Linked DNA regions of Homo sapiens: all the other regions are reported to be linked to region 1. Evidence: microRNA targets listed by miRTarBase, many of them from high-throughput screens and not tested one by one. Region 1 holds a microRNA gene; each other region holds the end of a gene's coding sequence. Distances are from middle to middle.
Evidence for each region. The annotated mature microRNA hsa-miR-877-3p reads UCCUCUUCUCCCUCCUCCCAG and lies in region 1 at 1,706-1,726, shown strand. An mRNA with a match to its seed (bases 2 to 7 or 8) in the 3' UTR can be bound and repressed. Matches are read on the target gene's strand: a 7mer-m8 pairs with bases 2 to 8, a 7mer-A1 pairs with bases 2 to 7 and ends in A, and an 8mer does both.

Region 1 (3,355 bases):
GGGTTTTTTGTTTATTTTTTGAGACAGGGTCTCACACTGTTACTCAGGCTGGAGTGCAATGACGTGATCTCTGTTCACTGCAGCCTCAACCTACCAGGCTCAAGTGATCCTCCCACCTCAGCCTCCCGAATAGCTGAGACTATGGGTGGCACCACCATGCCTGGCTAATTTTTGTATTTTTTGTAGAGACAGTATTTTAGCATGTTGGCCAGGCTGGTCTCAAACTCCTGAGCTCAAGAGATCCACCTACCTCAGCCTCCCAGAGTGCTGGGATTACAGGCGTGAGCCAGCATGCCCAGCCAGCATGGGCTGTTTCATGGTGATGGGAAACTGGTAGACTGTGGCTTCAAATGTAGTTTTTCCTACCTTCTCAGATGGAGTATGAGCGCCAAGTGGCTTCATTAAAAGCAGCCAATGCAGCTGAAAATGACTTCTCCGTGTCCCAGGCGGAGATGTCCTCCCGCCAAGCCATGTTAGAAAATGCATCTGACATCAAGGTAAGGTCTCAAGGGGCCCCTTCCAGTCCACTTACCTAGGGAAGAGCCAGTTCTCTCATCTTCCCTGAGTGGCTGTGGTGTGTGAATGGGTTAGTTCAGTGGGAAGAAAGATTGGAGGCATTTTCCACACCTTAGGTTCTGCCAACTTGAGCAAGAAGATAGAAAAACCAGTAGAAGTGGGGTCCACCCTTGGCAGAAAATAGTGTGGGACAGACTAGACTAGCTGAGGATGCATGGGGCTCCCATTACAGGCAGCGAACAGGGCGGGGACCGGCTGTGGGGAGAGGAAGGGGATTATGCTGGAGGTAGCGGTTTGTCAGAGGCTTCCCTGCAGGGAGAAAGTGGCCGCTCCTGTCCCAAAGGGAGAATTTTCATGTGATCATCCCTTCCCTCTGCCACCTCTTTCCTGATGGCTGCAGCTGGAGAAGTTCAGCATCTCCGCTCATGGCAAGGAGCTGTTCGTCAATGCAGACCTGTACATTGTAGCCGGCCGCCGCTACGGGCTGGTAGGACCCAATGGGTGAGAAGAGGAGGGAGCTGGAGGCAAAAAAGGGCCTGGAGGGAAAAGAAGAGATTTCTCAGTGGTGGCCAGGTCCTAATAGCTTTTATTCCCCAGCAAGGGCAAGACCACACTCCTCAAGCACATTGCCAACCGAGCCCTGAGCATCCCTCCCAACATTGATGTGTTGCTGTGTGAGCAGGGTGAGACCACTGGGGAGAAAAGGGGCTTGGTGGGGTGGGCAGTTGGGTAGAAAAGCCAGCCAGCCAAGAATAGAAGAAATTGTGGCTATGGAGTTGGAAGGGATGTGGAGGGAGACTGGAGACCGGGAAAGGGATGCTAAGGAAAGGAGGGGAGGGTCAATGAGGAACTTGAGAGTGTTTTATTTGGAACAAGTACAAAGAGCTGGGCAGGGTCAGGCAAAACAGAAATGTAATTGAAGGGAAAGAAAGATGAGACTCTTGGCTCTTGAGGCTGCCTGACTGTTCTCCCTCTGCCTCCCAGAGGTGGTAGCAGATGAGACACCAGCAGTCCAGGCTGTTCTTCGAGCTGACACCAAGCGATTGAAGCTGCTGGAAGAGGAGCGGCGGCTTCAGGGACAGCTGGAACAAGGGGATGACACAGCTGCTGAGAGGCTAGAGAAGGTAGAGGAGATGGCGCAGGGGACACGGGCAAAGACTTGGGGGTTCCTGGGACCCTCAGACGTGTGTCCTCTTCTCCCTCCTCCCAGGTGTATGAGGAATTGCGGGCCACTGGGGCGGCAGCTGCAGAGGCCAAAGCACGGCGGATCCTGGCTGGCCTGGGCTTTGACCCTGAAATGCAGAATCGACCCACACAGAAGTTCTCAGGGGGCTGGCGCATGCGTGTCTCCCTGGCCAGGTGGGCCATTCACCTCACTGCCCTCCCTTCCAGCCTCAGACCACCGGGGCCCTTTTCCTCTTTCCCTTCTCATTCTTCCAAGGCCAATAGGGAGGCTCAAGGCTTACCTCTCCCTCCTTACTATCTGTGTTGTGAGAACTTAGGGTCTTTCTCTATTTATCTCCCTACTTGGTGGTGAGTTCTCATCAACATACCCTGCAGCTGGGTGCAATGGGTCACGCCTGTAATCCCAGCACTTTGGAAGGCAGAGGCAGGAGGATTATCTTCAACCCAGGAGTTTGAGACCAGCCTGGGCAATATAGTGAGACTCTATCTTCACAAAAGGGGGAAGAAAACATATCCTAGCCTGGGCAACATAGGGAGACCCTGTCTCTACAAAAAATTTAAAGATCAGCTGGATATGGTGGCGCACGCTGTGGTCACAGCTACTCTGGAGGCTGAAGTAGAAGTATCACTTAGACCTGGGAGATTTAGACTACAGTGAGCCCTTATTGTGCCACTGCACGACAGCCTGGGCAACAGGGCGAGACCCTGTCTCAAAAAAATTAAACCGTATCCTGCCCGAGAACTTCTCTGAGGAGAGCTTGGGAAGGAGTGTTCATGGTCTCAGGCTCTATCTCCGAGTTTTCTCTGGGGTTGTCTGAGCAAGGATCTTTCTCTCCCTGACCCTGCCCTCTGCTACCCACCCTCTAGGGCACTGTTCATGGAGCCCACACTGCTGATGCTGGATGAGCCCACCAACCACCTGGACCTCAACGCTGTCATCTGGCTTAATAAGTGCGTTACGGCCTTTGCATCATTGGTTCCCATTCTGCACTTTCTTCCCCTTCCCTCCCTGCCCTGTTTTCCTTTAGCCCTTCTCCACTGTGCCTGTGAGTGGAGCTCTATTCAGACCCCCCTTTCCCTCCCAGCCCCCGTTGTCTGCCTGCTTCCTCTGAATTCTCTCTCACTTGACCACTGTGACACTTACACCCTGTTCTCTGAAACCCAGCTACCTCCAGGGCTGGCGGAAGACCTTGCTGATCGTCTCCCATGACCAGGGCTTCTTGGATGATGTCTGCACTGATATCATCCACCTCGATGCCCAGCGGCTCCACTACTATAGGGGCAATTACAGTAAGTAGGATTGTGTGTGGATGCAGGGAAGAGATAGAACCTCGAAAAGAGGCCTGAGTGGGAGGGCCTATTTAGATAAACTGAATCCTGTCAGAATTCCAGACAGTGATGCCTACCCCATCACCACCAGTCCCTGGTTGTCCCTTTGCTGGGAAGAGGAGCAACCACTGATGCCTGGTCCCCTCTTCTGCCCCAGTGACCTTCAAAAAGATGTACCAGCAGAAGCAGAAAGAACTGCTGAAACAGTATGAGAAGCAAGAGAAAAAGCTGAAGGAGCTGAAGGCAGGCGGGAAGTCCACCAAGCAGGCGGTGAGCACCTGAGGGACTTCTGGGCTGGGGGCCACTGTTCTCTCCTGGCAGTGGA
Region 2 (3,355 bases), not on the chromosome of region 1:
TGCTCCCCCTTTTTTTCCTGCTAATCCTGAATAACTCTGGGCAGCCCAGAAAGCACATCTATACTCACCAAGGCTGCTGGGCCCCTTCTAATATGCCCGGCCCCACAGCCTCCCCTGGGATCCACAGGGAGATATGGGGACAGCACTGGCTGGACTCCTCCACAGCCCGAGGACTCTGGTGTGGCCAGAGCTGGAGGCAGTGAAGACCATCCATGCTGCCTGCTTTCCTATTGCCCAAGGAAGGCTGGGGCTCTATCCCTTATTACTGACCCCCCAAACTATCCTGGGGCATAGTGCTATGACCTTATTCCAAGGTCAGGGTCTCCTCAGCCATGTCCCAGGACCCCCCATCCCTGCAAGGTGTGCTCCAGGTGGGGGGCTGCAGAGAACCAGGTATGTTATCACACAGGCAGCCCCTTCCCCCTAAGACTGTCACCTCCTCCCGTGCAGCCAGGGCGGGCAAGAGCAGGCCAGTGGCATGGACAGTACGGTACAGACATATGTGCACACGTGGGCCAGTCTTAGGGGAGACAGGAGGCCCAGCTGGGAGGGTGGGTGCTCAGGCAAACCTCATCAGAATTGAGGTGCCTCCAAAAGAAAGGACAGGCTGCTGTGAGAGGGTCTCTCAAAGGGTGCTGGGAGAGGCTGTTGAGAAGGTAGGAGTAAGGTTGGAATGACTCCACGTCTGGAGCTTCTATGAGACTCACGAGCAGGAGTGTGGCCCTCTGAAGCCCCAGCTCTGGCCTCCTGGGAGGAACACAGCCTAGGGCACAGCCCGAGGCCAGTGCCTACCTGCAACCCCATCAGGGCGGTGGAGCCCCCAGAGCACATCCTTCTCCCTCCCAAGCTTTCCCTGAACATTTCCTTCCCTGGCCTCAGTCACTACCTCACCCCATCTGTTTCCAACCAGGGCCTCTTTATCAGGTCCCAGCCCCACACATCCCACTGTACCCTGGACACCACCAAACTCCTCACTGGACTATGGAAGATTACCCTCCTCCAACCCACTCGTGCCTCCGCGTCTCCCAGCCCTGCTGGGAATGTAGTCCTCTTTGTGTCCCCTACAGCTGGCTCCAGTTCGTGTGGCCATGACCTCTGTTCTGCCACAGCACAGCTCACCAAGACTGATACAGAAATATGGCCTGAGAGTCCCCATGCTGAATCTCAACTCTGACCAAGTCACTTCTCTTCACAGTAACCTCCAACACACCTCCCCAGCATGGCTCCAGGGTAAAGACCAGAGTCCCTGGCTTGGTACGCAAGGTCCCTTAGAACCAGACCACTCCCAGCAACTCAAGCTCTCGTGTCCAGCACACCTGTAGCCTCTAAGGGCCAGGCTGGGCTTAGAAATGAAGCCCCATCCTCCAGGAGCTCAAACTTGACAACAGACTTGGCACTTGTTCCCCTGCCTGGGTGTTGCACCTCCATGAGCACCCAGGGTTGGGCCTGTCAGGGTTCTGCGCTGCCCAGCATCTTCTCTCCAGCCGTTCACAAAGTAGAATGATCTGCGCAATGCCCCAGTCCCGGGCCGTAGAAGGTGCTTAACAAATGTCTCCGAATTGGCAACGTATGGCAACCAATGGTGAGGGAAAGGCAGTGGGGCAGGGTGATAGTGATACAAGGGTTCCTTGGGCTACTTCCAAGCTACGATGCTGGGGGGACTTCTGAACAGCCATCTTCTAAAAGACCTTGTCCCAGCACCCTGCTTGTGACTGCCAGGCAGCGACTTCCTCAAAGGAAAATTGGGCCCCTCGCTTTCAACTTCCCCCTGGGATCCCAGAGAACCTGACTGTGGAAGCACTGGGGGGTGCAGGAGGAGCAGCCTACCTGCGCACCCACCATGGGGACCAGAGCCAAAAGAGATAACAGAGGGACTAGGTAGCTAAGAGCTGTACCAGGTCCTGGCTGCCTCAGGAAAATGGGGAGGGGATTGTCAGGCCAGCAGCTCTGGACTTGCCTGGGACAAATGTAGTAGAGGGAGGGGGCTCGGGCCCCACTGAGCTCAGGGCTATTCTTGGAGCCTGAGTCAGCGGAGGCAAAGGATTCCTGCCCTGCTTGTCCAGGCAGCAGTTAGAAACCAAATGAGAACACTATGCCCCAGGCTATCCTCCTCCCAGAATGCAGAGTAAACACACACAAGAGGCATCCTTGGAGACACCCCTTGGCCCCTTCTGGTCCACCAGGGACCACCAGGGGGTGACTTGGCACAAGGTCCACAGTGAGGGGTTTCCCACCTGAGCCTGCAGGGATTCCAGGCTGGGACTCCTACAGGGGCAAAGGCTGGGTTTACACTTCCTATGGACTCCCACAGCCCAATCTTGGGACCAGCTGGCTGAGGAACTCCCCTAAGTGGCTGAGTGGAAACATCTGGGCTCAGCTCCCTGTAGGCATCAAAGACTTCCGGCCTCAGCTGCAACCCCCACGCTTGCCCCTGGCTGAGGACACATCAGCCTGTGGGAAGGCAGGAGGATCCAGGAGCCACAGAACTAGAGGGAAGTCCTTGCTCCCCATCTACTGCCCCATGGACTCCATGCCAATGCCAAAAGAGGGATGACACACTTCTCAGCAGAGGATTTTATTGGTGGTCACCTGTGGCACAGGTTAGAGGAGCCGAAGTGCTGTGTTTGTGGTGGGGGGGGGACCACAAACCCCGGCCCTGCCCTCTTGCTTACATAGGCTTCCCGCCTAGAAGCGCAGCCAGAACATGCCGCTACGGATCCGGTTGTAGTCTGGGAGCTGCTCAATGGGGCCTGTGGGGATAGGGTGGAGCGTCAGGGTGGGGTACCTGGCCTGCACAGGGACACCTGGCCCTGTGCCGCACCCAGCTCGGAGATGCTGCCCAGAGCAGCACAAGACAGGCTTTGAGTGGAAAGAGAGGAGAGAACATTCCCCCAGGGGTGCTGAGCCTGTCCCTTCATGTTCTGGCCCTTGAAGCCCCACCCCACATGGAGGTGCCCGTTACCTGACGGGTGCAGGGTATTGATGAAGGCACCTTGGCAGGCAGTCAAGGAACTGCTGGGACAGGTTTTCTGAGCAAGAACTCCCTGGCAGCCAGGGGACTGGGGAGAGCTGCTTGGGGCCTTAACTGGCTGCTCTGTAAGCTGAGCAGCAGTGCGGGAGCAGAGGTGGAAGGGGAGGCCAAGAGAACGGCCTGAGGAAATAAACAAAGAGCAGACCCCCTAGGCCACTTACCATATCCAGCCACTGCTGGGCACTGGTCATAGATGTACTTGGAGCAGATCTCACGTACCACACTGGCATCCACCTCCTGCAGGGTGAGGCAGAGGGCATACTGGCTAACGGGCACCTGGCCACCACCTCAGCCAGTCAGCATCATCCAACTAGCAGAGATCTC
Region 3 (3,355 bases), not on the chromosome of region 1:
TCTGGGTCCTACTCATACCCCCTACCCACCCCATGGTCTGCTTCGTTCATTTTCCTTCCACAGGCTGAGCTATTTCTCTGATCCCCTTTTTCCTCCCTTACGGCTCTTTTCCTTAGTCTCTCCTCCGTACCTGCCTCTGCTCCTCTGCCAGCCTTTCCCTCCCCCTGGGTTCCGGCTTCCCGGGGGCTCATCCCCAGTCAGTTGTGCTTCTTGGCCCCTGGAGCTCTGGCTCTGCGTCCCAGGGCTCGGACCCCATGCCCTGCAGCTCCCTTCTCCTCCTTTCCTCCAACCTAGCCCAGTAGTCAGGGCTGGACCTCTGCCTTTCCTGGTGCCACACAGGCTGTGCCTCTTTGTCTCAGCCCTTGGTTCCCTCTCTGTCCCCAGGGCTGGTTTCTTCACAAGCCCTTGTCCTGTCTTCCCCATCTCTGCTTCTTCGCTCAACCTCTCTGGCTCAACCCCCTTTGGTCTTTCTAGGCACAGTCCCCGAGGCCTGCCCCACAGCTCCATATCCTATCCTCTGTCCCCTGGGGGCCTCACTGGGATCTTTGTCCCCCAGAGCCTACACCTAGCACTTTCTGTTGGATACCAGAAGGTCCACTCAAGACTTGGGGTAAGATTCTGAGGGAAAAGACAGTCCTTGGGGTTGGGGCCCCTGGCCCTTCTTAGGCCTCTGGTTTTTATTTATTATTATTATTTTTTAAATAGAGACATGGCTGGGCGCGGTGTCTCACGCCTGTAATCCCAGCACTTTGGGAGGCCGAGGCGGGCAGATCACTTGAGGTCAGGAGTTCGAGACCAGCCTGGCCAACATGGTGAAACCCAGTCTCTACTAAAAATACAAAAATTAGCTGGGCATGGTGGCGCATGACTGTAATTCCAGCTACTTGGGAGGCTGAGGCATGAGAATCATTTGAACCCAGTAGGCAGAGGTTGCCGTGAGCCAAGATCGCGCCACTGCACTCCAGCCTTGGCAATACTCAGTTTCCCCCCCTAAAAAAAAATACAGATGTGATTTTCGCATGTTGCCCAGGCTGGTCTCAAAATCCTGAGTTCAAGGATCCTCCTGCCTCCACCTCCCAAAGTGCTGGGATTACAGGTGTGAGCCACCACACCCAGCTAAGCCTCTGTGGTTTTTGTTTGTTTTTTGTTTTGTTTGAGACGGAGTCTTATTCTGTCACCAGGCTGGAGTGCAGTGGCACGATCTTGGCTCACTGCAATCTCTGCCTCCCACGTTCAAGCAATTCCCCTGCCTCAGCCTCCCAAGTAGCTGGGACTACAGGCACGCGCCACCATGCCTGGTTAATTTTTGTATTTTTAGTAGAGATGGGGTTTCACCATGTTGGCCAGGATGGTCTTGATCTCCTGACCTCGTGATCTGCCCGCCTCGGCCTCCCAAAGTGCTGGGATTACAGGCATGAGCCACTGCGCCCAGCCTAGGCCTCTGGTTTTATCTTGAGTCCCAAAACCATTTTCCCAGACTGAGCCCCCTCAAGCCCATCTCTTAGCTGGGCACCAGAGCTCCTGTCAGTCACAGGCTGGCCTCCCCACTCCCCCAGCTGAACCCTGCTTCTCACTTGAGGTCCTTCCCACCTGTCAGCTGGTGTGGCAAGAACAAAGCACAGAGGCCAAAATAAATGAGGTGCCAGAGTTTGGTTTATTGGCTCATCCAGTGCCAAAGGTCCAATGGGCACCCTCTTCCCAAGGAACCGGGAGCCCCGCGGCTCCTGCATTTCTCTTTCTCCTTCACGTGTTCCTCCTGGCCCTGACTGAAGCCGTGGCAGAAGCTGGGGCGGGTGTGAGCAGAGGCTGGGTTCTGCCAGGGGTCTTAGGGCCCAGTCTGCTTGGTACAGGATGGGGACCCTGGGCAAGAGGGGATGGACCCCAGGGGCAGAGGAGAGGGGCCCACTCAGCAGGGGCCTGTACCAGACAGAGCAGGGGTGGGCCCTGAGGAGCACGGGAGTCCAGCCCAGGGGCACGGTGGCAATGGGGTGACCTAAAAGGGAGCAAGGTCATAGGAGCAGGTGAGAGGCCCCCCAGATCCCCGTTCTCTCATGGGCTGGGTCCTCTGAGGCTCAGAGCCTAGGATGGAGGGTTGAGCAGGGAAAGGGCCAGATGACTGTGGGGCTCAGGGTGGGAGGAGGCGACTGCTGGAGGGACAGTCCTTGACCCAAACTACCCCGAGCCCTAGACCCAGAAAGACACACTCACACAGCCCTGGACCCCCCTTTTTAATGTGGGAACATGTGGCACTCAGCCCCACCCAATGACCAGGAAAAGAGCCCCCAGCTGCAGCTCTGGCCTGGCCATCCTGGTCGCTGAAGCACAGGCCAATCCCTGTCTTCCATCCACAGCTGCACCTGGAGGCCCCACCCAGGGTCCCCAACGTCCTCCCCGTGTGCTCCCTTTCCCCCATGTGCCTTCAGGCCCGTCCTTGGTCCATCTGGGCTAGGACTTCCCCCTCCCTGCTCCCAAACCAAGGCGAGCAGTGGAAACACGACAGGACCTCTGAGAAGCGGATTGCTATGGGCTTCAGCAAGGCACTGGGTGGGTGGGGCAGGGCGGGGCTGCAGCGGAACAGCGGTGGAGGCCGAGCAGTCCCCACCTCCTTGGGTGGCTCAGTCCTCAGCCTCTGGTCCACCCTCTACCCTCAACCCCCACAGCTGGGCCTCCTTCCTCTTTTCCAAGCCCCTTCCAGAAGAGTGGCCACTGGGCAGGCACCGGAAATGGCCATCTGCGGGGCCCAGGGGCCTGAGACACCTAGGCTACTGGCACAGTGTGGAGCAGGGGCTGGGTCTGAGGCCCCTCCTGAGGCTTCATCCTTGCTCTGCAGCCTGCGGGGGTGGAGGGGCTCAAGCTGAGTCGCCCCCGCCAGAGGTCTTCTTCTTGGGCCGGGTCTTCAGTGTCTTGGAAGCCAGTGGCTGTGGAAAGAAGGAGGAAGATGGGGCTCAGCCTGGAGCCGCCACCCCCTGCCTGTTTCCCCAAGCTCTGGCCAGTGCCCTCACCTCAGCTTTGGGCGCTTTTTTGATGGGTTTGGCCCTCTTGGGAGCTTTGTCTCCCATGTCATCCTCAGAAGCCTCTGTCCGGGAATCTGCCGGGTTTGTGCTGGACCTTAGACTCAGGGCAGGGTCATCTCCTGGGTGCAGGGAGAAAAGGAGGTGGGGGAATCTTTCCCATCTGGACTCCTTGCCCTTGGGGCCCCACCCCAACCCCGGGCCCTGCCTGTACCTAAGTCCTCGATGGTGTCCAGGAGGCTGCCAGGGCTGGGTCGGAGGCGGCCGTCAGGCCTCTGCAGGGGCAGTGCGTCCTCGTCCCGGATCAGGGTCAGGTCCTGCATGCTGAAGCTGCGGAGCTTCTC
Region 4 (3,297 bases), 120 kb from region 1:
CGCCAGGCTGGAGTACAGTGGAGCAGTCTTGGCTCACTGCAACCTCCACCTCCCGGGTTCAAGCGATTCTCCTGCCTCAGCCTCCCGAGTAGCTAGGACTACAGGCGCCTGCCACCACGCCTAGCTAATTTTTTGTATTTTTAGTAGAGACGGGGTTTCTCCATGTTAGCCAGGATGGTCTCAATCTCCTGATCTTGTGATCTGCCCACCTTGGCCTCCCAAAGTGCTAGGATTACAGGGGTGAGCCACCACGCCTGGCCTTTTTTTTTTTAGATGGAGTCTTGTTCTGTTGCCCAGGCTGGAGTGCAGTGGCACGATCTCAGCTCACTGCAACCTCCACTTCCCGGGTTCCAGCAATTCTTCTGCCTCAGCCTCCCAAGTAGCTGGGATTGCAGGCACATGCCACCACGCCCGGCTAATTTTTGTATTTTAAGTAGAGACGGGATTTCACCATGTTGGCCAGGCTGGTCTCTAACTCCTGACCTCAGGTGATCCACCTGTCTTGACTTCCCAAAGTGCTGGGATTACAGGCATGAGCTGCCGTGACTGGCCTTTTATTTTTTTGAGACAAGGTCTCACTCTGTTGCCCAGGCTGAAGTGCAGTGGCTCGTGTCCACCCACTGCAGCCTTGACCTCCTGGGCTCAAACGATTTTCCTCTTAGCCTCCCAAGTAGCTGGGACCATAGGTGTGTGCCACCATGCCCAGTGAATTTTTGTATTTTTGGTAGAGACGAGGTTTTGTCATGTTGCCCGGCTGGCCGTGAACTTCTGAGCTCAAGTGATCTGCCAGCCTTGGCCTCCAAAGTGCTGGGATTACATGTGTGAGCCACTGTGCCCATCCATATGTTTAACTTTTTGAGGAACCATCAAACTGTTTACCACAGAGGCTGAACCATTTAACATTCCTACCAGCAATGTATAAGGATTCTAATTTCTCCACATCCTTGTAATCAACCAACTTTTAAAATTTAAATCTGGCTGGGCACGGTGGCTCAAGCCTGTAATCCCAGCACTTTTGGAGGCTGAGGTGGGTGGCTCACTTGAGGTCACGAGTTAGAGACCAGCTTGGGCAACATGACAAAACCTCGTCTCTACCAAAAATACAAAATTCATCGGGCATGGTTGCACACACCTATGGTCCCAGCTACTTGGGAGGCTGAGAGGAAAATCGTTTGAGCCCAGGAGGTCAAGGCTGCAGTAAGCCGACATCGAGCCACTGCACTTCAGCCTGGGCAACAGAGTGACACCTTGACTCAAAAAGATAAAAGGCCAGTCATGGCGGCTCATGCCTGTTATCCCAGCACTTTGGGAAGTCAAGACAGGTGGATCACCTGAGGTCAGGAGTTCGAGACCAGCATGGCCAACATGGTGAAACCCCGTCTCTACTACAAATACAAAAATTAGCCGGGTGTGGTGGCATGTGCCTGTAATCCCAGCTACTCGGGAGGCTGAGGTGGGTGGATCACTTGAGGTCAGAAGTTAGAGACCAGCCTGGGCAACATGACAAAACCTCATCTCTACCAAAAATACAAAAATTTAGTAGAGCCCCGTCTCTACTAAACAATAAAAAAAAGAAAATTAGCCAGGCATGGTGGTGTGTGCCTGCAGTCCTAGCTACTCAGGAGGCTGAGGTGGGACTATTGCTTGAACTGGGAGGTGGAGGTTGCAGTGAGCCAAGATGGTGCCACTGCACTCCAGCCTAGGTGACAGAGATGAGACCCTGTCTCAAGAAAAAAAAAAAAATCTTAAGAAATGTCATACAAATTGTCCTAAATAGAAGATAATGATGAATTAAATACAAGTCTATGACTTTTTTTTTTTTAAGTTTGTGTCTTGAGACCTAGACATTTTAAAAAACTACACTACACCATAAGGCACAGAGTGAATATTTATTTATCACAGAGGTCAAGCCGAAGCTCTAATTTTATAAATCCTGGAAAAGCTGGCCAGAAAAGTACAGAGACTTGCCCAAAGTCAAAGCTAAAGATGCTTCCAGAGGCCAGGAGAGAAGAAAATGTTTTAGTAGCACTCCATAACTGGACCCTCAAATCTACTCACTCCAAGCATCCCTTCAAGTTCCTGACCCCAAAGTAAGAATCTCAGTAAGAAAAAAATAGAGATGGTTTCCAAATAGGAGGTAGGACACCATGAGTGGCATCGAGCAATAACTGCAACAGTCTGGCTAAAGATAGCTGCCACTTATGACATCTGAGCATGAAACTAGCTAATTTTAAAATGGCCATTTAATACATGCATGTAAGAAATCTTGTATCCCCTAAATCTATACAAATAAAAAACTATAAATACAAATAAAATAAAATGGCCATTAAAAAAACAAACAAACAAACAAAAAACAACCTGTGGCTTCCAAATCCCTTATCTTTTCATTTATTCATAAAGATTTCTGGTCCCACCCATGTTCCAGGACAAGTTGTATCAATATACCCCAATCCTTTCTAACGCCCTGAGTTCTTTCTTCCACATATCTTCTAATTCGTGGTCTGGGAGGGAAAAGGGTAGTGGAGTTCTCAGGTGGATGACATCTCCAAAGGGGAGAGGACAAAGGCCTCTGGCTTGGCTTCCTGCTTCAGCACTCCAGTCAGCAGGAACTCAGGCGAGAGGAGGGGCAGCCCAACCCGTAGTGGAATGGAGCAATGAGGGAAGTCCTGAGGGCATGTGATCACAACTCTCTGAGGCTGGGGAAGACAGAGCAAAGGCAAAATCAGGTGAAAAAGAATCCTAGAAATGGGTTCAGGACCCACTAACCAGTCTTACCATCACTAAAATAATACCTCCTAATATGAAGCCAAGTGAAGCACACCGCATACTGTCTATGAAATACTCTTGCTAGGCCGGGCGCAGTGGCTCATGCCTGTAATTACACAGCACTTTGGGAGGCTGAGGCGGGTGGATCACGAGGTCAGGAGATCAAGACCACGGTGAAACCCTGTCTCTACTAAAAATACAAAAAAAAAAAAAAAAAAAAATTAGCCGGGCGCGCTGACGGGTGCCTGTCGTCCCAGCTACTCGGGAGGCTGGGGCAGGAGAATGGCGTGAAAACCCAGGAGGCGGAGCTTGCAGTGAGCCGAGATCGCGCCACTGCACTCCAGCCTGGGCTACAGAGCAAGACTCCATCTCAAAAGAAAAAAAAAAAGAAAAAAAAAAAAGAAATACTCTTGCTAGAGGCCAGGCACAGTGGCTCACGCCTATAATCCCAGCACTTTGGGAGGCCGAGGTGGGTGGATCACGAGGTCAAGAGATCGAGACCATCCTGGCCAACATGGTGAAACCCCGTCT

Region 2: the mRNA of UQCRC1 is a reported target of hsa-miR-877-3p. The part of its 3' UTR that is shown has no 7-base or 8-base seed match.
Region 3: miRTarBase lists REEP2 as a target of hsa-miR-877-3p. Seed matches in the 3' UTR shown: 7mer-A1 at 2,672-2,678 and 7mer-m8 at 1,692-1,698.
Region 4: miRTarBase lists MDC1 as a target of hsa-miR-877-3p. The part of its 3' UTR that is shown has no 7-base or 8-base seed match.

Annotation. Positions count from the first base shown.
Region 1 is chr6:30,582,692-30,586,046 of GRCh38, forward strand. MIR877 (microRNA 877) reads left to right here and starts at 1,641; the gene lies at 1,641-1,726. ABCF1 (ATP binding cassette subfamily F member 1) reads left to right here. Exons shown (of 25, transcript NM_001025091.2): 10 at 375-497; 11 at 917-1,017; 12 at 1,114-1,199; 13 at 1,501-1,640; 14 at 1,727-1,875; 15 at 2,569-2,652; 16 at 2,867-2,991; 17 at 3,188-3,300.
Region 2 is chr3:48,596,443-48,599,797 of GRCh38, forward strand. It overlaps UQCRC1 (ubiquinol-cytochrome c reductase core protein 1), which reads right to left. Exons shown (of 13, transcript NM_003365.3): 12 at 3,193-3,268; 13 at 2,560-2,750. The coding sequence ends at 2,686. Among named protein-coding and RNA genes, the nearest start is that of COL7A1, 2.8 kb to the left of the region's middle.
Region 3 is chr5:138,445,246-138,448,600 of GRCh38, reverse strand. REEP2 (receptor accessory protein 2) reads right to left here. Exons shown (of 8, transcript NM_001271803.2): 6 at 3,226-3,355; 7 at 3,003-3,133; 8 at 1,636-2,918. The coding sequence ends at 2,850. Among named protein-coding and RNA genes, the nearest start is that of REEP2, 7.9 kb to the right of the region's middle.
Region 4 is chr6:30,697,937-30,701,233 of GRCh38, forward strand. It overlaps MDC1 (mediator of DNA damage checkpoint 1), which reads right to left. Exons shown (of 15, transcript NM_014641.3): 15 at 1,871-2,696. The coding sequence ends at 2,529. Among named protein-coding and RNA genes, the nearest start is that of MDC1-AS1, 3.5 kb to the right of the region's middle. RefSeq lists an enhancer at 2,584-3,085.